Homo sapiens: one gene and its partners. The protein of the gene in region 3 purifies or fractionates together with the protein of the main gene of each other region. This does not show direct contact. Each region holds a gene or a part of one and is shown on either strand. Other genes may lie near its edges. The genes, in order: MPHOSPH10, AAK1 and UTP25.

The links.
Region 1: the proteins of UTP25 (region 3) and MPHOSPH10 purify together in Homo sapiens (affinity purification with mass spectrometry; 2 studies listed by BioGRID and IntAct, with this or other methods). This does not show direct contact.
Region 2: the proteins of UTP25 (region 3) and AAK1 purify together in Homo sapiens (affinity purification with mass spectrometry; 2 studies listed by BioGRID and IntAct, with this or other methods). This does not show direct contact.

Annotation. Positions count from the first base shown.
Region 1 is NC_000002.12:71,133,595-71,140,705, reverse strand, and holds part of MPHOSPH10 (U3 small nucleolar ribonucleoprotein protein MPP10), read right to left. Parts: intron 6,759-7,111; coding exon 6,601-6,758; intron 6,081-6,600; coding exon 5,909-6,080; intron 2,217-5,908; coding exon 2,075-2,216; intron 912-2,074; coding exon 844-911; intron 1-843. UniProt on the Homo sapiens protein: Component of the 60-80S U3 small nucleolar ribonucleoprotein (U3 snoRNP). Required for the early cleavages during pre-18S ribosomal RNA processing. Part of the small subunit (SSU) processome, first precursor of the small eukaryotic ribosomal subunit.
Region 2 is NC_000002.12:69,458,704-69,465,814, reverse strand, and holds part of AAK1 (AP2-associated protein kinase 1), read left to right. Parts: coding exon of another isoform or gene 1-390; 3' UTR 391-4,103; coding exon of another isoform or gene 4,104-4,148; 3' UTR 4,149-7,111.
Region 3 is NC_000001.11:209,844,892-209,852,002, forward strand, and holds part of UTP25 (U3 small nucleolar RNA-associated protein 25 homolog), read left to right. Parts: intron 1-6,312; coding exon 6,313-6,556; 3' UTR 6,557-7,111. UniProt on the Homo sapiens protein: Component of the ribosomal small subunit processome for the biogenesis of ribosomes, functions in pre-ribosomal RNA (pre-rRNA) processing. Essential for embryonic development in part through the regulation of p53 pathway.

The DNA of each region.
Region 1 (7,111 bases), on a different chromosome or scaffold from region 3:
TTTATTCTAAGTTTACAAAATCAGATCAATTCTTCAACAAAAACCACTAGGTTTTTAACATTTGAAAAAAATACACCATTGAGAAATGGTTTTAAAATTGTAGAACTACCACAATGCTAGGGTTTGAATGTCCCCTCCAAAACTCATGTGGAAACTTAATCCCTGATGTGGCAACACTCAGATGTGGGGCCTTCTAGGACGTGACTGGATCACCAGGGTTTTGCCCTCATGAATGGCAGTTGCATTTATGGATTAATGGGTTATCATCAGTGGGGGAATGGTGGCTCTTAAGAAGAGCAAGAGACACCTGAGCCAGCATCTTAGCATGCTCAGCCCTTTCACCATGTGATGCCCTGCACCACCTTGGGACTCTGCGGAATCCCCACTGGTAAGAAGGCCCCTCGACCTTGGACTTCTCAGCCTCCATAACTGTATTCCTTTTAAGTCACCCAGCTTCAGATATTCTGTTATAAGTAACAGAAAAAAGACTAGGACATATATACTGAATAATTTACCACACCAGATACTGTGCCTAAGCCAAGGGTTCTGGGTGCAACCATCACAGGTCAGCCACCAGCTTCACTGAGCACCGCCCAAAAGGTCAGCAAGACTCACGAGAAAGGATAATGGCTTCTTGCTCCTCTCAGGCACAATACTCGTCTTTCCTGGATACTACTGAAGAGCAGTACCTCACACAACAAAAGCTGACTAGGTAGCCTAGATTTAAGGTTTGTGAACACTAAGTGAAAATAAAAAGCAATAGTCCTACTCTCAAAGTACTCTCACATTATTTCTAAAAATCTTGGTGACATTTTGATTAAGTTAAATTTAATTCTTACTGACCTGATCTCTTATCCTCTGTTTAATGATATCTTCCAGTTGAAGGGTGGTTTCCTCTGTAATCACAGGTGCTAAAGGATATACAACGTTTATTCATTAGGTAGATATCCACTAGACCATTGATTCAGTGCAGTCCTTGGACCCACAGCATCAGCAACACGTGGGAACTTGTTAGAAATGCAAATTCCTGGGCCACCCCCATACTTCCTGAATCAGAAAGTGGGGAAGAGGGACAGCTATCTGTGCTTTAACAAGCCTTGTGATGCTCCCTGAAGTTTGAAAACCACAAAACTAGGATACATATGGTAGTAAGTGCTAATACTTTACCCAAGGTACCCAGGGACTCTTCCCCTCTTTTCCATTCTCTCTTCCATTGAAATAAAATGAAAACTCATTTTGATGTAATGGGTACAAGAAAGAAGTCAATGAGATGACCACAGTTTCAGGTTGAAGTTCAAAATTTAATCAGTGGACCATGACAGGATGCAAGCCTTCAAAACAGATTACTACAAGAAAGCTGATTACAAACTATACATTAGGTATCATTAGCGTATTGTTAAATTTTTTGGGTGGATTAATGGTACTGTGATTACATAGGAGAATGTCCTAGTTCTTAGACGATATCTGCAAAAGTACTTAAAAGTGAAGTGCCATGAGATTGGCAACTTACTTAAAAAAAGGGCACATATACAATCTTACATATGCTAGGGAGAGAAAGCAAATATAACAAAATGGTAACTGGTGAATCCAATTGAATAGCATATAGGTGTTCACTGTAGTATTTTTTCAACTCTTCTGTGTTTATAAGTTGATTTTTTCTTTTTTGACAGAGTGTCGCTCTGTTGCCCAGGCTGCCCACGCTGGAGCACACTGGCACAACCTTGGCTCACTGCAACCTCCCCTTTCTGGGTTCAAGCAATTCTCCTGCCTCAGCCTTCCGAGTAGATGGGATTCTGAAATCTGCCACCGTATCTGGCTGATTTTTGTATTTTTAGTAGAGACGGGGTTTCACCATGTTGGCCAGGCTGGTCTCAAACTCCTGACCTCAGGTGATCCGTCTGCCTCGGCCTCCCAAAGTGCCGGGATTACAGGTGTGAGCTACCATGCCAAGCCATGTGTTTACAAGTTTTTAAAATAAAAAGTTGAGGGAAAAGAAACACCACCCCAAATCTTTGTATGAAATGGAACCATGGAAAAAGCACAGACATGAAAACTACAGAAGAGGGCACCATACCCATCCGGACAGCATGGTCAAAGTGTAGGGTCTCCTCCAGGAGGCTGTTCTCTGGCCTCTTCTGTGCTGTCACTTCCCCCTGAAGCTGCCACGGCTTTTTTTCTAACAACTCTTTTTCTAAAGATGCAATTTTTTCATTCATCTAAGAAAGAGATAAAATAACTAGTATACATTTAGAAAATAAAATCTTATATTTGTGTAAAAGCAAAAAATAATTTAAAAAGTGGGAAAGCAAGAAACGTACTGTTCTACGATTCTGTTCTTGCCATCTTTTTATTCTGTCGATGACTTCCTATTTCTGCTGCCTATGGTGGGGTGAGCTGCAAACAATTTCTTTTCCTGATTAATTTAAAATGCCATGTTTATAATATACTAAACGCCCCCAGAAGCTTTTGAGTTTGTTTCTGGGCTCTATTCTATTCAAGTGATCTATCTATTCGCAAGTCAAGTAATTCTTTGATTAGAATATTAGTATCTGATGGAGTCTGACCCTTTTGACTCCAAACTCAAATTCTTACTCTAACTTCTTTTTTTAAAATTTTTTTGAAGCAGAGTCTCGCTCTGTCGCCTAGGCTGGAGTGCAGTGGTGTGATCTCAGCTCACTGCAACCTCCGTCTCCTGAGCAATTCTCCTGCCTCAGCCTCCCGAGTAGCTGGAATTACAGGCGTGTGCCACCACGCCCGGCTAATTTTTGTATTTTTTAGTAGAGACGGGGTTTCACCAAGTGCTGGGATTACAGGCGTGAGCCACCATGCCTGGCCATTATCTCTAACTTTTAAAAGACAACAATGATGACTTCAGTGTATAAAATGCCAGCCTTTTCAGCTACCTTACAGAATTCTCTTATTTTCCTAATATCAATTCAGTTTATCCATTCGGTTTCCTCTCCAAATACCAACACTTTCATTTTTCACTCTTAGTGGAATATAAATACATCTGCAGTATTCCTAATCTTTTTTTTTTTTTTTTTTTTTTGAGACAGTCTCGCTCAGTTGCCTAGGCTGGAGAGCAGTTGCGTGATCTCAGCTCACTGCAACCTCCACCTCCTAGGCTCAAGCAATCCTCTTACCTTGGACTCCCAAATAACTGGGACCACAGGCGCGTGCAACCACGCCTGACTAATTTTTGTATTTTTTGTAGAGACGAGGTCTTACCATGTTGCCCAGGCTGGTCTCGAACTCCTGAGCTCAAGCAATCCTCCTGCCTTGGTCTCCCAAAGTGTTGGGATTACAGGCATGAGCCACCGCACCTGGCAGTTTTCCTCATCTCTTATCTTTATCTTTTGTAGTTACACTGGCCTATGCGTCTAAAAGAATGTTAATCAACAGTGGTAATTGTAATACTGGACATCTTGTCTTATTCCTGATCTTAAAGGGATGTTTCTAGAATGATGCATGCATCATGCATGATGGCAGTTTTTGGCTTAAATGTATTTATATTCCGCTAGGAGTGAAAAAAAAAATTAGAAATGAATATTGAATTTTATCAAATGTCTTTCTGACATATATGGAGGTGACTATATGTTTTTTCTCCTTAATGTCTTGCAGTCAGGAATCATACTAGATTTTCTAATACTGATTCAAGAGAATAAGGTTCATGCAGTTGTGTGGCATCATTTTTCCACTGTGCTGTAGGATTTTTGCATCACTGTTCATGAATGAGACTGTGCTCTGTGTGTGTGTGTGTGTGTGTGTGTGTGTGTGTGTGTGTGTGTGTGTTTTAATGCTACCTCTGTCAGGTTTGGGTTTTCATGACCTAACAGTTTCAAAAAAAAAAAAAAAAAGGTTGAAAGTTCTACTTTATTCTTTATATGTGGAAATTGAAATAAATTATTTTTGATTTATTGAAACTTAACTTGAAGGTCTGATATAATTTCACAATAAAACCAAACCTTTCTTTCTTTATTTGTTGGGGAAGGGCGGGAGGAGTGGGGTGGAAGGATACTAACTCATTGATATTTTATAATGGTGCTTTTTTTCCCTTAGAATTTCTCTATCTTCTGGGGACAATCTGACAACCATGGATTTAATTCAGATTCTTAGATTTTAAAAACAATTCTTTTGATATTCTTGGTATCTTTCATTCTCTGCCTGTTCTCTTTTTTTTTTTAATTTTTTCAGACAGTCTCTAGCTCTGTTGCCCAGGCTAGAGTGCTGTGGTGCAATCATAGCTCACTGCAGCCTTGAACTCCTGGACTCAAGAGATCCTCCCCCATCAGCCTCTCGAGTAGCAAAGACTATAGGCACACACTACCATTCCCAGCTAACTTTTTTAATCTTTAGTGGAGACGGGCTTTTGCCCTGTTGCCCAGGTTGGTCTCGAATTCCTGGGCTCCAAACAATCCTCCCTCCTCAGCCTCCCAAAGTGCAGGTGTGAGCCACTGTGCCTGGCCCTATTCTCATTTTTATTGTGATAAAAATTTTAAGGTAAATAAATGATAGAGCCAAATTATTAGAGCCAGACTACATCTACAAAAATTTAATGAAATTTCACTTGTCTGAAATCATGACACAAAGAAACAATTTTTACCAACTTTGAAAGATATGTTTGTGATGGTATAAATTAAAATTCTGGCTATTTGGCACTCACAAAAATCTGTGGAGCACCTTAAAGACATAGGTGGTATCCGCTGGGCGCAGTGGCTCACGCCTGTAATCCCAGCACTTTGGGAGGCCAAGGTGGGTGGATCACCTGAGGTCAGGAGCTTCAGACCAGCCTGGCCAACATGGTGAAACCCCGTCTCTACTAAAAATACAAAAAAATTAGTTGGGCGTGGTGGCGGGCATCTGTAATCCCAACTACTCAGGAGGCTGAGGCAGGAAAATTGATTGAACCTGGGAGGTGGAGGTTGCAGTGAGCTAAGATCACGCCACTGCACTCCAGCCTGGGTGACAAGAGTGAAACTCTGTCTCAAAAAAAAAAAAAAAAAGAAAAAGAAAAAGAAAAGACATATGTGGTATCCTCCAAAACAGTGGAAACAGTTAAGATGCTCACAGGACAGCTTTATCAGGAGAGACATGCTATACATATAAAGATATTAGGGACAGAGAAAAAAACAATTATCTTTAAAAATTTTTTTATTTTTGAGACAGAGTCACACTCTGTCGCCCAGGCTGGAGTCCAGTGACACCATCTCGGCTCACTGCAACCTCCGCCTCCTGGGTTCAAGGGATTCTCCTGCCTCAGCCTCCCGATTAGCTGGGATTACAGGTGCCCGCCACCACACCTGGCTACTTTTTTTTTTTTTTAGTAGAGATGGGGTTTTACCATGTTAGCCAGGCTGGTCTCGAACTCCTGACCTGAAGTGATCCACCTGCCTCAGCCCCGAAAAGTGCTGGGATTACAGGCATGAGCCACCACGCCCAGCAGAAGCAACTATTTTACTCACAGGCCCCAAACTGAAATGCAGGCACTGATTTTGCAAATCAGATGCTTTCCATATGGCAAGATTTTTGGTTTTTTGTTTTAAGACAAGGTCTTGCTTGCCGCCCAGGCTAGAGAGCAGTGATGCAATCTTAGCTCACCGCAGCATCAACCTCCTAGGCTCAAGTGATCCTCCCACCTCAGACACCAGAGTAGCTGGACTACAGGCACACATCACCATGCCCAGCTAATTTTTGTATTTTTGGTAGAGACAAGGTCTCACTATGTTGCCTAGGCTGGTTCTGAACTCCTGAGCTCAAGCGATCCTCTTGCTTTGGACTACCAAAGTGTTAGGATTACAGGCGTGAGCCACTGCACCTGGCCAAGATATTTGTTTTCAAAGGATGGTTAATAGTTTTCAAAGGATGGTTAATATCAAGTATATTAAAAATTCCTTAAATTACTAATTACCTTTTCCTGTCTTTTTTCAAAGGAGGATTTAACTTCATCAGAATTTTTCTTTACATTTAAAACACCTGTATCTTCAGTTTCCGCATCATCTGGTAAAGCAAAGGTCACTCTTTTCAAGCTTTCTTTATGTTGTTTATTGTCTTCATTTTCTTGAAGGTCATCATCTTCATCCCTACAATACCAAAACTCTTATAAAAAGAAATATACTACTTTCCATTAGAAAAACAAAAGGAAACAAATTTTCCCTTAATAAAGTTCTTATTTTATATACCTAATGCAACCAAATACTCAGAACTTCCAAAATCATTCAGTTATTAAGGAACAAAAGGTATTATTTAGGTAAAACGCTATGTAAGAAACAGAAAAAAAAGTGTCCAACATATAGAAAATAAATTATTCATCAATCTATAATACAAATCTCTTATCTCACAAAAATAACAGGATTTTATTGACACAAAACCAAATCAAAGTTCCTGGTAAGGAAGGTTTGATTGCTACTACCAGAGATATTTTTCTTCATTAAGTGATCTCTAATGTCCCTTTACAGTCAGAGACTTTCCTCTGGCTATCTTGAGAATATCTGATATTAGAGAATAGAACTTGCTAAGACAAACACATTTGATAACTACGAGTACACACACATGATTGGGCAATTCCAGCTTACAATGTAAAGGATGGTTCAAAATACTCACGTTTCCGAAATACTTAGTTCTTCTGCTTCTTCTTCAGCAATTTCATCATCTTCTTTGTTTGAATCCAGCTCATCATCATGAACATTTGTTATGTCTTCATCACTTTCAACTGGATCAAAAAAATCTTTGTATTTCAGATTTCTGGAACTTTTACCTGACTAAAATAAAAAGATATTAAAAACTATTAATTAGGGATAGAAAAATATATTAACACATGCATATAGATTTGCATGTATATTGTATGTATATATTACTTTCTGACTTAATAACACTACAAGCTAATAACTAATAACCAAACTAATAACTAAATAATTATTAGGTGAAAATGGCAACTAATAACACTACCACAAAATTATAAGACCAACTGGAACATAAATTGAATGGAAGTACAGATTCATTTATAACTGATAAGATAGAGCACAATATTTCTTATCACTAAATCTTCTAACTACAATTAAATCTCTCCTAGAAAAACAGAAGAAAAGCTAATTTGAGGAGGAAAGTGCTCTCT
Region 2 (7,111 bases), on a different chromosome or scaffold from region 3:
CAACAGTCTAACCTCCTGTCCCATTCTGTACAAGCAGCAGACCATCTGGACAGCATCTCTCCCAGGGGATCCTGCCTGGAATCTGGGGGTCATTCTAATGACAGAAACAAAGGACCTCAGCTCCAGAAAGAAGCTGTCTCAGGCCCCATGGCTGGCAAACCATTCCGCCCCCAGTCCTTATCCAAGTATTCCCGTCACTATAGCCCAGAAGACGAGCCAAGTCCAGAAGCCCAGCCCATTGCTGCCTACAAAATTGTTTCACAAACCAACAAGCAGTCGATAGCTGGGTCTGTTTCTATCACATCCCTTTCCTCCAGGACTACGGAGCTGCCAGCTGCTGATCCATTTGCTCTAGCACCCTTCCCTTCAAAATCAGGCAAGAAACCCTAGGAGCAAAACCTGAGCCTCAAGCCTCTTGTCTCTATCCCACCCTCAATACCCGCCATGGCACTCCCAGCTTAGCCTTCTGAAGAAGAAATATTATCAGTTCTTATATTTCAATTCCCTGCGTCAGAGCAGAATTTCTTGAGTCAACAAACTCAGTTGCAGTGATATTTAGTTGAAGCCCCTTTAAGTTATGTTCATTTTTGTTTGTTTGTTTGTTTGTTTATATTGATTTCTGGACTTGGAGGCATTTTCATCTCCTTCACAGAGGTCATCCACTTCCACCAAGAACTCTGCTTTCCCCCCGCCCCACCCACAGAAACTGTTTAAATCCTGAAATACTTCTTCACCCCAATCCCAAAGGGGCCCTATTGTTGCTAGTTTTAATTCCTGTAGCTCCTGTTCTAAGTCATGCCCATCGAAGAATCAAGATTAGTCCCTCCACTAAATCAAGATTTAGTACTCTTGAAAAGGGGAGATGTCTGGAAAGAAGAGCAAGATAAAAACCCTGCACATCAACAGGAAGTATAATCCTGCAGTTACTAATAATTCCTGTAGAAGCAGCAGCTCTAGGAGTCTCCAGATCTGATTCTCAGTCTGTGTGCAAGCCAGGCTGGCTCTCGTGCATGACTGTCTATGGGTGTGGAATGTACGTCAGAGCCTGTGTAGAGATACAGGCAGATGGGCTAACTCCTCATGTCTAGTCATGCTGGCAGGGCTTTCCCCACATCCATGCTTTTGAAATTAGTGTGAGTGTACAGGTTTGTGTGTGCATGTATACGTGTGTGTGCACAGGAAGCATTTCCACTTGAGGGAAATCCTGCCCCATCATGCCTACCTCCACAATGAAATCACTCGTTTTTTGGTGTTTGCTCGCCTAACTGACTTGAACCCCATTTTATTTATTTAGTTTTTTTCTCATGGCAAAGTAGAATACGTTGGAAGGTGTAGGGAAATCCTGCTGGAACTGGTGTTTCAGAGTAAATCTTTTTTCTCTCCGGAATTTCTTGTTTTGCTATTAACAAATTATATTTACCTGATTATGAAAAATTAATTTTCCTTATACATTTTCCCCTTACAACACTAGAAAAGAGCACCTTGTTACAGTTCCGGCCTCTCAGTATGTGGGCTAAATGCCAGCATTAGGGAATTCATTAATCATGAGACTAGGCTACAAACTAGGCTTGCTTGTTTTGGGGTGGTTTTGTTGTTGTTGTTGTTGTTGTTGTTGTTGTTTCCAAATCTCTACTGCCTTTTGAGGAAATGTAAATCTGAGACATGGAAATAAGTGTTTGGGAGAATGGAAAAGAGCTGAATCAGGTAGGCATGAAAACTTTTACATTCTCTATCCTCTTTAGATGTTGAAATAGGCCAGACAGGTTAACTGATGTTTTTTAAAATTGTCTTTTATTTCTGGAAAGATCTGACTTATTCCTAGCTTTTTTCATACCCTTTATTATTAGTGCCTTAAAATAAAGCTGGCCAGGTGCAGTGCCACACACCTGTAATACCAGCATTTTGGAAGGCTGAGGCAGGAGGATCAGTTGAGCCCAGGAAGTTCAAGACCAACTCTGGCAACACAGCGAGACCCTGTCCCTTCAAAAAATAAATAAAAAAATAGGCTGGGCATGGTGGCTCACACCTGTAATCCCAGCACTTTGGGAGGCCAAGGTGGGCAGATCACAAGGTCAGGAGTTTGAGACCAGCCTGGCCAACATGGTGAAACCCCATCTCTACTAAAAATACAAAAAATTAGCTGGACGTGGTGGTGCACACCTGTAGTCCCAGCTACTCAGGAGGCTGAGGCAGGAGAATCGCTTGAACCCGGGAGGCAGAGGTTGCAGTGAGCAGAGATTGCGCCACTGCACTCTGGCCTGGGCGACAGAGCGAGTCTAAAAAATAAAATTAAATAAAATAATGAAAAAAATTAGCTGGGTATGGTGACATATGCCTGTAGCTACTCAGGAGGCTGAGCTGGAAGGATCACTTGAGCCCAGGAGTTTGAGGCTGCAGTGAGTTGTGAGTCCAGCCTGGGTGACAGAGTGAGACACTGTCTCCAAAAATATAATAATAAAAATAAAGCCTGTATCTCAATGGGAAGATTTCTGCTAAGGCAGTTCAACTCACTGGAAAGAACTGCTGCATTAGGTTTCAACTTTAATGCTTTCTGTTACTTCTAGTAAAGGTTAAGTGATTTTTCCATTAGCTGTAGAAGTTTGGAGAGCTATTTACCAAGCCAGATCAATGATTTAAAAATTATTGGAAATTCATCTAAGAATCAAGTCTGAATGCCCAATTCTATTGCGGTTGATTAGGTGTGATATTCTTTAAAGTTCAGGAATATTGGCAGTAAAAAATGAGCAGCTACTTTTCAATACTTTGTCCTTTTTTGGTGGTCTCTGCCTATTTCAAATGTCCTGATCAAAAGATAAATAATTGGCACTGTGCCAAGGTTTGGTTTTCCAACTAAGGTTTCAACTGTGCCAGAAACCTATGTCCTTCACTTTGGTGGATGCTAAATGTTATTCTAAGAATATGCTTTTTCCCAATTCTCCTTTCTGATTTTTATGTATTAGTGGATGCAAAATTGTCTTTCTAGTTGAATGAATAATTTCGGCTAATGCACGTGGAACTTTGCACCCCAGATTCTTCCCATGGTCATTATCAAGTGAAGCCCTCAAAAACATGAGCGAAGAGCCTAGAAATACTCAGGGAGATTTCTCACCCCAACTCAGAAATTTTTTTTTTTTTTTTCAAGACGGCGTCTTGCTCTGTCGCTCAGGCGGGAGTGCAGTGGTGTGATCTCGGCTCACTGCAACCTCCATTTTCCGAGTTCAAGCGATTCTGCCTCAGCCTCCCGAGTAGCTGGGATTATAGGCACACACCACCGCGCCTGGCTAATTTTTGTATTCTTAGTAGAGATGGGGTTTCACCATGTTGGCCAGGTTGGTCTTGAACTCTTGACCTTGTGATCCACCCACCTTGGCTTCCCAAAGTGCTAGGATTACAGGCGTGAGCCACCGCACCTGGCCCAGAAATTCTTTTTTTTTTTTTAAATTATTATTATACTTTAAGTTTTAGGGTACATGTGCACAATGTGCAGGTTAGTTACATATGTATACATGTGCCATGCTCGTGTGCTGCACCCACTAACTCGTCATTTAGCATTAGGTATATCTCCTAATGCTATCCCGCCCCCCTCCCCCCACCCCACAACAGTCCCCAGAGTGTGATGTTCCCCTTACTGTGTCCATGTGTTCTCTTTGTTCAATTCCCACCTATGAGTGAGAACATGCGGTGTTTGGTTCAGAAATTCTTAAAGTAAGAGATCATTCTAATTCCCCTTTCCAAATATTCAGGATTATCTCTGTAACAGCCCAGCAAAATGTTTTTCCTTTGGTTATTTGATAATTCCCTTCTAATCAAGTGACTATTTTAATTCTCAAGGTGCAAATCAGGATAAAATCATGGTGATTTTACTACATAGTTGAATACTTCGTCAAGTATGAGCTTGTATCCTTTTTAAATTTTTCACTGGAGGCCAGGCGCGGTGGCTCACGCTTGTAATCCCAGCACTTTGGGAGGCCGAGGTGGGTGGATCACTTGAGGGTAGGAGTTTGAGACCAGCCTGGCCAACATGGTGAAACCCTGTCTCTACCAAAAATACAAAAAGTAGCTGGGCGTGATGGCACGCACCTGTAGTCCCAGTTACTAGGGAGGCTGAGGCAGAATTGCTTGACCCAGGGAGGCAGACTTTGCAGTGAGCCAAGATTGTGTCATTGCACTCCAGCCTGGGCGAGAAGAGCAAAACTCCGCCTCAAAAAAAAAAAAAAAATTGTCACTGGAGACATGATGGGTGGAGACTCTACATACCTTCTTTGAATACAGAAACGGATGCAAACACATGCAAATTACTTTTTTTTTTTTTTTTGGTGATGCATGAAAAAACTTTGACTTGTGGATTACATTAATTATTAGTAACAGTTAGATTCTGCCGACTTGTATTACAGTAGGGTCTTATTTCCTTAAAGAGAAAAAAAAATACAGTCATGCCCCACTTAATGATGAGGGAGACATTCAGAGAAATGCATCCTTAGGTGATTTTGTCATTGTGTGAACATCACAGAGTGTACTTAACACAAACCTAGATGGCACGGCCTACTACCTACCTAGGCTATATGGTCCAGCCTGTTGCTCCTGGGCTACAAACCTGTACAGCATGTTACTGTACTGAATACTGTAGGCAGTTGTAACACAATGGTAAGTATTTCTGTATCCAAACATTTTAGACATAGAAAAGGTACAGTAAAAATATGGTATAATCTTATGGGACCATCATGGTATATGTGGTCCATCATTGATGGAATCGTTTTTATGCAGCACATGACTGTATATAATCAACAAACAACTCTACTTTCTTGTTTTCGTTTGTTGTGTTTTTGCTTTACACATTTGATAGGGAACATAGAAGTTGTGACCTTTCATTTCAGTGGAAAGCATTGAGCCAGAATATATTTATTCCTAAACCATCGAGCCACACATGCATTGATGAACCCTGAAAGAATCCACAGTAATTGACTAACAGGCAGTACTGAATGAAAGATGTCATATGTGGTGAAAAATATTTAATATATCAGTTTCTTGGGCTCACATACAGCCCTTTAGTTCCAAGTGCTTGGTTAGATTAGAAAATGGGATGAACACAATTTGATGCTGAAGCAGCTGCTGAGCAGCACCCAGGGAGTCTAGGTCATACGCCCTATATTGTTTTCGGCCCACTTATTGTTGAGTTGAAAAGTCTCATATTTGTAGACTAGAGTGTATGTGTTTAGAGGCTCATGTTGTATCTGAGTTTTCTCTGGCAACTAAGATCTCTTTCTAAACGTTCTAGAAAGATACTGGTATCTTACTGGCCCATTATTTAGTAAGTTTTAGAATACATGTACATCAGTGTTTTCAACTGCTTGGTGGACATTTCACTGATGCATAATCAAAGTAGCAGATTATAATCATCAGAGTGATCTGACAAGGAAATTCTGTATTTGCTTCCATAAAGAAAAATAATCAAAACATATATCAGATATAATATATATGCAGTATATCACATAGGAAATTTTATTGTAGGAAATTAGAGAAGGATGCTACTCAATTCATTCTCTAGCAGGAAGAATACAGCTTAAAAATCACTTGGGTCCCTTTAATAAAGAAAAGTGTGATTCTGTGTTGTGTGTTTGGAACTGAAATTGGAGAACACGTGCCAGTCGACTGTGAAATGGTTGCTGGATAAAACCACAGATGTGGTTTTATCCGAGAAATGTGGGACTGAAATTATTTTGATGAGAGGTACATAAGAGAGCTGCAGAAAAGACTGTAGCTTCTGAGGAGGCAGGAGTACCTTGTTAATATCCAAACCACCCCTGAGTTCTAATGTTCCAACTCCACCTAAACGAGGAATTGGAAACTTTAAATGGAATTATCTAATTTAAATTCTTAGTTTTTTCTTTGTCTTTCTCAGCTGATACTTGTAGTTTTGTTTTGTTTTTTAACCACCAAGAACACTTGCAAGTTTGTTACTGAAAACATCACTAAAGGAAAAGAAGAGTTTCAAAATGCTTGAAAAGTAGTATGTGGTTGGGAATTGTTTTTGTTCAAGTCCCTGGAAGTCCTCTTGGCTTAGCTCCCTTGTTCCTGTTCCCACTTCATTTCCTTACTTAACATTCCCCTATTTTGAGCATGTCAATAAGTGCATGATGAATGGCACAGTTGAATGATCATGTTAACTTTAATTGCTTCCTTTGTTGCTGTAAACAGTTTCTTGTTAAGTTTCAGCCAAGTCTGTGACAATCTCACCAAATAAGAATGAAATGGGCGGGGTGTGGTGGCTCACACTTGGAATCCCAGCACTCTGGGAGGCTGTGTTGGGCCGATCGCTTGAGCTCATGAGTTCAAGACCAACCTGGGCAACATGGCAAAACCTTGTCTCTACAAAAAATACAAAAATTAGCCAGGCATGGTGGTGCACACCTGTAGTCCCAGCTACTTGGGAGGCTTAGGTGGGAGGATGGCTTGAGCACGGGAGGCAGAGGTTGCACTAAGCCAAGATCGTGTCACTGCACTCCAGCCCAGGCAATAGAGCCAGACCCTGTCTCAAAAAAACAAAACAAACAAAACATGAATGAATGAAATGGCTCACCTTCCCTATTATGAACTAGAAGAAAGGATGAAGGAAGGTTGGCAGGACCCCAGCCTTACTCTGTAGTGACAACCCAGAGGTACTTTTCCCGGAATGCAGGGTCAAGTTTATGTGTGAAGGGACTCTAGAATAGCTGGTAAAAATGGCTACATGGTAACCATTCTTGACTTAGTCCAGTATTCCCATAATTTGTAATTCCATAAATTTATTCTCAGCTGTCCCCCAGCCATTTCTAATAGAAGGATGTGTACCCCAGTTTTGACAATGTTCTTGAAATCAAGTTAGTGTTACCTGCATTGCATTATAATGGAACTATATGTACATGTTAAAGGGATCCGTTTGATTCCTTTCGGCAAGGAATTGCAAAAATAGTTTTTACCAATACCAGTTAAAATAGGATAGGTTAGACTTTGGGGGCAGGGTGAGACAGTGCAGCCTTTTCACTCTGAAATGGCAAATCAGCTGTACTCTTTGAGTCTACCAGAGATTCCTATTTGAGTGTGAATGGGGTGTGTGTGTGTGTGTGTGTGCTCA
Region 3 (7,111 bases):
CCTCATCCTGATTTCACAATAATGTCCAGTGGATTTAAGTTCTGACTTTACTGTTTTATTAACTCACAATGGGTGCATTTTCTCAGAGAATCCTAAACAGATACGCCAGAAATCTCCCAAGCTTTGGAGCACATTAGATGATGCACTTTGGCATTGCATTACCTTTTAGTTTATGCTAAAACGATTAGGATGGTGCTCCCCAGATAACGTCCTTGTTCCCAGGATGGGGAGGGAGGCGTCCCAGCAGCTTGCCTAGGCATAGCAAAGCTGGCATGGCATGACCTCTTAGAGAGTTGAGGATTGATTAAATTTGTGTTTCCCAGGCTCCATTCTTGGCTACCCAGAGAAGGCTGCTTGGCCAAAGAGTGTTAATGAATGCCTGCTTGTTGCCCTCATTATTTGCTCTGTTCCAGTAAGTTGTCGTTTCCATTCATGTTGGAAAGTATTTGGGGAAGTTGCACTCATCAGGTCTTAAAAGCTCTTAGCTTTCTATCATCTTGACAAATGAAAGCAAGCCCTTTAAGTGAAGTGGATGGATTGGAAAACTTCCCAGTGTGATTGTCTATGGCAACTGTGAATTAAGCTGGGATGGGAATTAAGCTCTTTAATATCTCAGCAGCTTTTCAAGGACAGGGCATGGAGCCCTTTGTAAGCAGGACAGTCTCCTGTATTACACTGTCTATTTACCAAGCCATGTTGCCCTCAAAGTCACGATAAGGACAAATCTCAGCATATGCCATTTGCTTTATGCCCTGGGCCAGGTTAATTGGTGTTTCTTTTGTAGAAGATGAATGAAAATAATGTGCTTTAGAGTTCTGCAACAGCTAATTATCTCAAGGTTTCCAGCTATAGAATTTTTTGCTCGAGAGATCACCAAGGTGATGATGGATGTTTTGGTGTGCAGTGCCTTTGTGATTTTTTTTTTTTTAATTTGACCTTAGAATAAGTACTTTTTTTTTCTTTTTCTTTTTCTTTTTTTTTTTTTAAGACAGTCTCACTTTGTTGCTCAGGCTGGAGTGCAGTGGTGTGATCTCGGCCCGCTGCAGCGTCTGCCTCTTGGGTTCAAGCAATTCTCGTGACTCAGCCTCCTGAGTAGCTGGGATTACAGAATTGCATCACCACGCCTGGCTGATTTTTGTATTTTTAGTAGACGAGGTTTTGCCATGTTGGCCAGGCTGGTCTTGAACTCCTGGCCTCATGTGATCTGCGCACTTCAGCCTCCCAAGAAGTGTTGGGGTTACAGGCATGAGCCACCGTGCCCGGCCAGAAAATGTACATGTATTTTATATTGTAGTATCTGACTCTGTTTTTATATTCTCTATGACAGCTGGCAATGTTAGGAAGATTAGAATTCATTTTTGAGTTAGCAAAAATTTTTTAACCTGAAGATTTGTTTTATGTGGGGAAGATTAAACTAGCAGAATCTTAGAATTGGATGAACATTTGGTCATGATTGCCCTCCCAGTGATGGGTCACAGCTCTTTTCCAGTGCGTTATCAGTGGGTTTCCACAGCAGGGAGGATCTCAACCAGGAGGCAAGTCAGAAACTGGAGGTGGGATTTGTGGAGTTTGGAAAGGCTGCTGGGAATTTCTGATTACTCCCTTCCCCTACAGGAGAATCCCAGTTCTAGAAGTAGTAGACTTGGTCTTTATGGACCGTAGGAAGGAGCCAGTCTTTCAAGTTCATTGTGGTTGCCTCATTTGTCTTTAACAGTGGCTCGTGAAATAGACATGTGGAAGGTACTGTAAGGGTGATTAGGCTGTGTTTGTAGGAGTCACTGAAAACAAAGCATATATAAGGGAGGAGGAAGGCAGGGTAAGGGGTGCTCAAGCTATGGAGACTTGCCACTAACTGCCCCTTGGAAGAGGCCCTGGCCATGTTCTCTGTTGCCAGGAGATACTCAGTCTCTATTGTGGTTGCATTGGGACTGAGACAGATTTTCATGTGTGTGTGTTTAATATAACACTTAACAGTTTTATTGTTTTGTTTTTCCTGATTGTGAGGGTATTTCACAGTTATTGTAGAGATATTGGAAATTTTAGGTTAAAAATCTCACTGCCCTGATATAAATACTCTTTTTGGTAATTTTTTTCCATCTTTTTTATGTGAAAAATGTGTGCACATGCACACGTGCACACACACACGTGTTTTTTTAAAAAACAATACTAAAATTAGGATCTTTTTTTGTTTTAAGGATTTTTTTTTCCTTTGTCTTAGATGTTTTATGTGCTCATTTAAAAAAATTCAAAGACTAACATTTTGGCCTGTATATTTGTATATTGTGGATTTTTGTGTATATTTTTAAGTTACTATATATAGCTCTACGACATCCTCTCTTCCCCCAGGTTTTTATTTGAAAAGATTTCATTGTGAAAGAAAATTGTTAAGAGACTAACAATAAACATCTGTTTATTTATAAATGCTTTTACCCCAAATTCCACCAGCTGTTCTCATTTTATCACATTTGCACATACCCATCTTCTCTCTATCCCCACTCACATCTCTTATTTTTTCTTCCTGAACCATTTGAAAGTAAAGTAGCGTGAGTCTTCATTGACACTTCACCCCTAAATATTTTAGCATGTAGCTCCTAAAAACAAAAACATTCTTTTATCTAACCATAGCACCATTATCATGCTACCTGATGTTACTACAGTAATATCATCTGATATCTAGTCTATATTCAGATTTTGCTAGTTGTCACCAAAATGACCATTATAGCTCTTTCCCCTCCGGCCAAAAAGGATTCAGTAAGGATCATATATAGCATTTGGTTAACTTACTGCTTTTGTTTCTTTAATCTAGTTTAGTTCTCAATTGGGGAACAATTTTGCTCCCTCAGGGACATTTGGCAATATCTGGAGACATTTTTGGTTATCACAACTGGAGGATTATTCTGGTGGTTCCAGTGGGTTGAGACCAGTGATGCTGTGAAACACCTTCGTTCACAGGACAGCCCCCAACCACAAAGAATTATCTGTCTCAAAATGTCAGCAGTGTTAACACTGAGAAACCCTCATCCAGAATAACTCTCTTGCTTTTTTACTTTTTCATGACATCGACATCTTTTTGAAGAGTCCAATCTGGTTTCCTGCAGTATGTCTCACAGTCTGGATTTATCTAATTGTTCCCTTGTTATTTAGATCAGTGGTTCTCAAACTTTGCCGTACGTTAGAATAGAAGCTTTTAAAAATCCAAATGCCCAGGTCACATCCCAGTACCAATTAAATCGCAGTGTCTGGGATGGGGACCAAACCTAAGTATTAATAAAAAAAATAAAAAAACAACCAGCTAGGTGATTTCAATGTGCAGCAGTTTGGGGATGACTGATTTAGAATAAATATCTTTTGATAAGAATTCTACTTAGGGAATATTACGTACTTTCTACCTCATCTCATCAGAAGGCACGTAATGTCACTTTGTCTCATTCTTGGTGATGCCAAATCACTAAAATCACTTAGTGTGTGTATGTAATTAATAAGTAACGTGTGAGGTAAACATCACATTGTTTTTAATGGCTACATAGTATTACATTGGTTAATTAAGCTAGCTTCCTTTTAGTGGGCATATAGGGGTTTTTTTTCTGTTTTCTGCTGTTGTATATAATAATACGCAAAACATCCATATGCATATGTTTTGATGAAATACTTACCTAGTTATTTTCTTGGGATAGATTTTGAAAGGAAAACTCGTTAGCACAGAGGCTGTACACAGTTAAAAATGTGTCATGCGTTGCCACTTATTTGCTCCTTTGCATCTTTTCCATATCTTCTCCTGAATTCATAGACAAAGTAATTTATGCTCCATTCACCTATTTCTCCAAAGCTCCATAGACTGAATTATTGCTACTGATGTGATAGTCAAAATGATACCTCATTGTTTGGATGTCTTTTCTTGCTTTTTTGTGTCTTCTATAACTTTCAATGGAATGTAGAGGCTGAAGTAAATAATACTTATGTCCGGCCGCACCCCTTCCGTAGGCCACTGGTGTGGGTGCTATCAATCTAGTCAGGATTTGATTGTTACTGTAGATACCTTCCCAACACCACAGACCTCAAATTCCTCCAGCAGACAGTGGGCTTGGTGTAGGGTCTCGGGTGCTGGAGGGTTTTTCTCAGTGTCCTGATTGCTCAGCTGTCACTGAGGCCTTGACACGTGTGCCAGAGGAGGGTCTCACTCCACACTCAGACCCCTCCTCACAGGAGGCCTCTTGTTTCTCCTTGCAAGGCATGAAGTCGGGGGGAGGGGGTTCTCCTGGTCCAGCTCAATTTTTGGCAGGCCCTTTTTATTCCAAGCTTTGGGGGTGAGGTTTTCTCAGGGTTCCTGCCCCGCTACCTCCGTGGCAGCCAGACTCCACCTTTTATCTGTGAGGGATCTTTGTGGTGAAGTGTATACAGCTTCTTCCCTAATCGAACTCTGCTTGTATCAGTGCAGGAACTTGGGCTGAACAGGTTTCTTACCCCTTCCTCTGGGGCAGAATGCTTTTTACTGGGTACAAGTCTTGTGTGGGGGACAAATGGAAGGGTGGGGGTTTACTGCCCTTCCCTTAAGGGCAGACAACTTTTGCTTCTACTCACCCTCCCCCTCAAGTGGTTTGCCTTTGCCTGCCTGCGATTAGGGGTGGGGGACAGGGTGGCTCCTTTCTTCTCCCCCGTGTGCTTCACGTTTTTACCATGGGTTTCACGATAATGGGCCTGGGAAGTAGGTGGGCTTTCATGTCCCTACCACCAGTGGGGTCTCCCTCGGGTCTTCTGCTTTCTCCAGGGCTCCCAGTGCAGGCCTCTGGAACAAGCTCATGAGTGGATGTGAACTAAAGGAGCATCCAGGGATCCCTGGGGTCCTGAAGTCAGGCAAGCCTATTCTTGCCCTTTAAGAATGTGTTAGAAGTGTATCTATTTTCTTACTACCCACTTTTTTGGCAGAGGCCATCTTTCTCCTGTGCTCTGCCTAAGGTGCAGTAGTTCCTGTGTCCCGTTTTTCCTCAGAAGGGCTACTCTTTGGAACTCAGTCCATGGTGAGCTGAAGCTGGCTCACACTGGCTCATGAGACCTGGCTGCACATCTCTGGGTCAGCAGCATGACATTGGTAGCTTGAAACTGACAAATCCTTCAAATTAGCACCCTCCCTTTCTCCCACTGAGGACCAATTATTAAACATACACCAGCTCACCACCTAATTCAGGTTACCTGATTGCTTCATGATGGTAGCTCTTTGGGCTCAAGAAAAGGAACATTTTTGTATAATAGATTATCTGACTTTTTCTTATTGGTATAGGAGCAATATTCTCGAGTTTTATACATTCTAAGCAGAAGTAGAACTCAGTGTTGTTTTTGTTTTGAGAACTAGTGAGGTAGAACAGTTTATTCAAGTTCATTAGCCGTTAGAATTCCTTCTTTATGGAAAGGATGTTGAAAGGTGAACCACATAATAGATCACAGTCATGGTTTGGGAAAGGAAGGTCTCCAGAGAGATCAGGATGAGCTGTGAGGGAAAAAGACAAGGAAAACTTACCTTCTGTGAAAGAAATAAAATCCCCAAGGGAGTCTAACGTCTTCAGTGTATGAGAGAAACTTAACAGGAAAAATCAGAAGCTTGTCAACATATAAAATCTTTTGTTATGGAATCCCACAGGGGAACGGTTGACGTCAGCCTGACTGAACCATACTGCAAGTCAGTCCCTTGGGTGTACACCACCCCCCACCACAGGGCGGCACTGTGCAGCTGGGAAAGAGATGGAAATGCATACGCTGTTGAAACTAATTGCTTTCTCATGATGCCTAGTGGGTCCTTGGGCAGGGTTTTGTAAATGGATGAACTTGGGACGTCTGCCATGGAGTTAACATGTATCCAGAGTGGCAAGAAAAGACTAATGGGAGTGTATTTACAATCTGTACAACTTATTTTATGTACTGGGTCTGACCTTGTCTCCATTCTTTTTTGCCTGATTATAATAAGGCTAATGTTCCATTTTAAGTGCCTGCTTTTTAAGTTTTCTGTGACAGATTTTTAAATCCTGGTCTACTATTCTTTCCCATGATACCTCAGCCTACCCAGTGTAGGATCAAGAAATGTGTATTTATTTTATCATTTTCTTAAGCCAAATATTAGGAATTCGAATATGTTGTCATAAAAAGAATTCAAATATGTTGCCACCTCAAGTTAGAATAACTTTTGTTCTGTTACTTGTGCCACTGTTTTTCTCCATTAGCAGGAAGCAACAAGCATGAACTATGCCTCTGTACAACTCCTAGGTAGTTTTTCTAGAACTTGTTTCTCAAGTTGACATAGCTCTTTCTTTCCAATTCTGACAGGTATACAATAAAAGGCATCAGGAACCTGATTTTCTATGAACTGCCGACATATCCACACTTTTACAGTGAAATCTGTAATATGCTGAGAGCCACCAACAGAGGAGAAGAGGCCACGTGGACCTGCACTGTTCTCTACTCCAAATATGATGCCCAGAGGTTAGCTGCCGTGGTTGGTGTGGAGCGGGCGGCACAGATGCTACAGTCCAACAAGAATGTCCACCTCTTCATTACTGGAGAAAAATGAAATTTTGTTGGGCAGGAAGTGGTATTTGGCATGATACATAATGTTTGATTCTATGCCATTTGGACCCAATTCTGATTACTTACAGAAGAAGGACTGATACAAAGAAAGTGCATGAGGCAATGTCAGTATTATCTGACATCTTTCTTTTCAGGTCATGTGTCCCTGAAAAGTTAAATGTAAACCAGATTTTGGTAAATCCCATCTTTCAGAAGTGAAGAGGGGGCTAGAAGGACTCTGAGAAGTTGGTAGAAGAAAACTCCCACTTGTGAATATTTTTGTGAGACATAAATTCTTTTATTACGATTTACCTCTAATTTATTACACTTAGTAAATTCTTCCAGATTTTTCTATTTGTTTGACACTTCCTTAAAGTAAGGAATACACATTGCTTGCGAGAACTGGTTATGAGACATTGGAATACTTCTTGCTGCTACATGTCATCTTAATTTTGGATGGCATGGGTTTTGTAAAACTTATTCTGCCCCAGCCAAACTTTTTTGAAACCTTAAATAGTCTACCTTAATTCAGCCTAGAAGAGTACATTGATTTACTGAT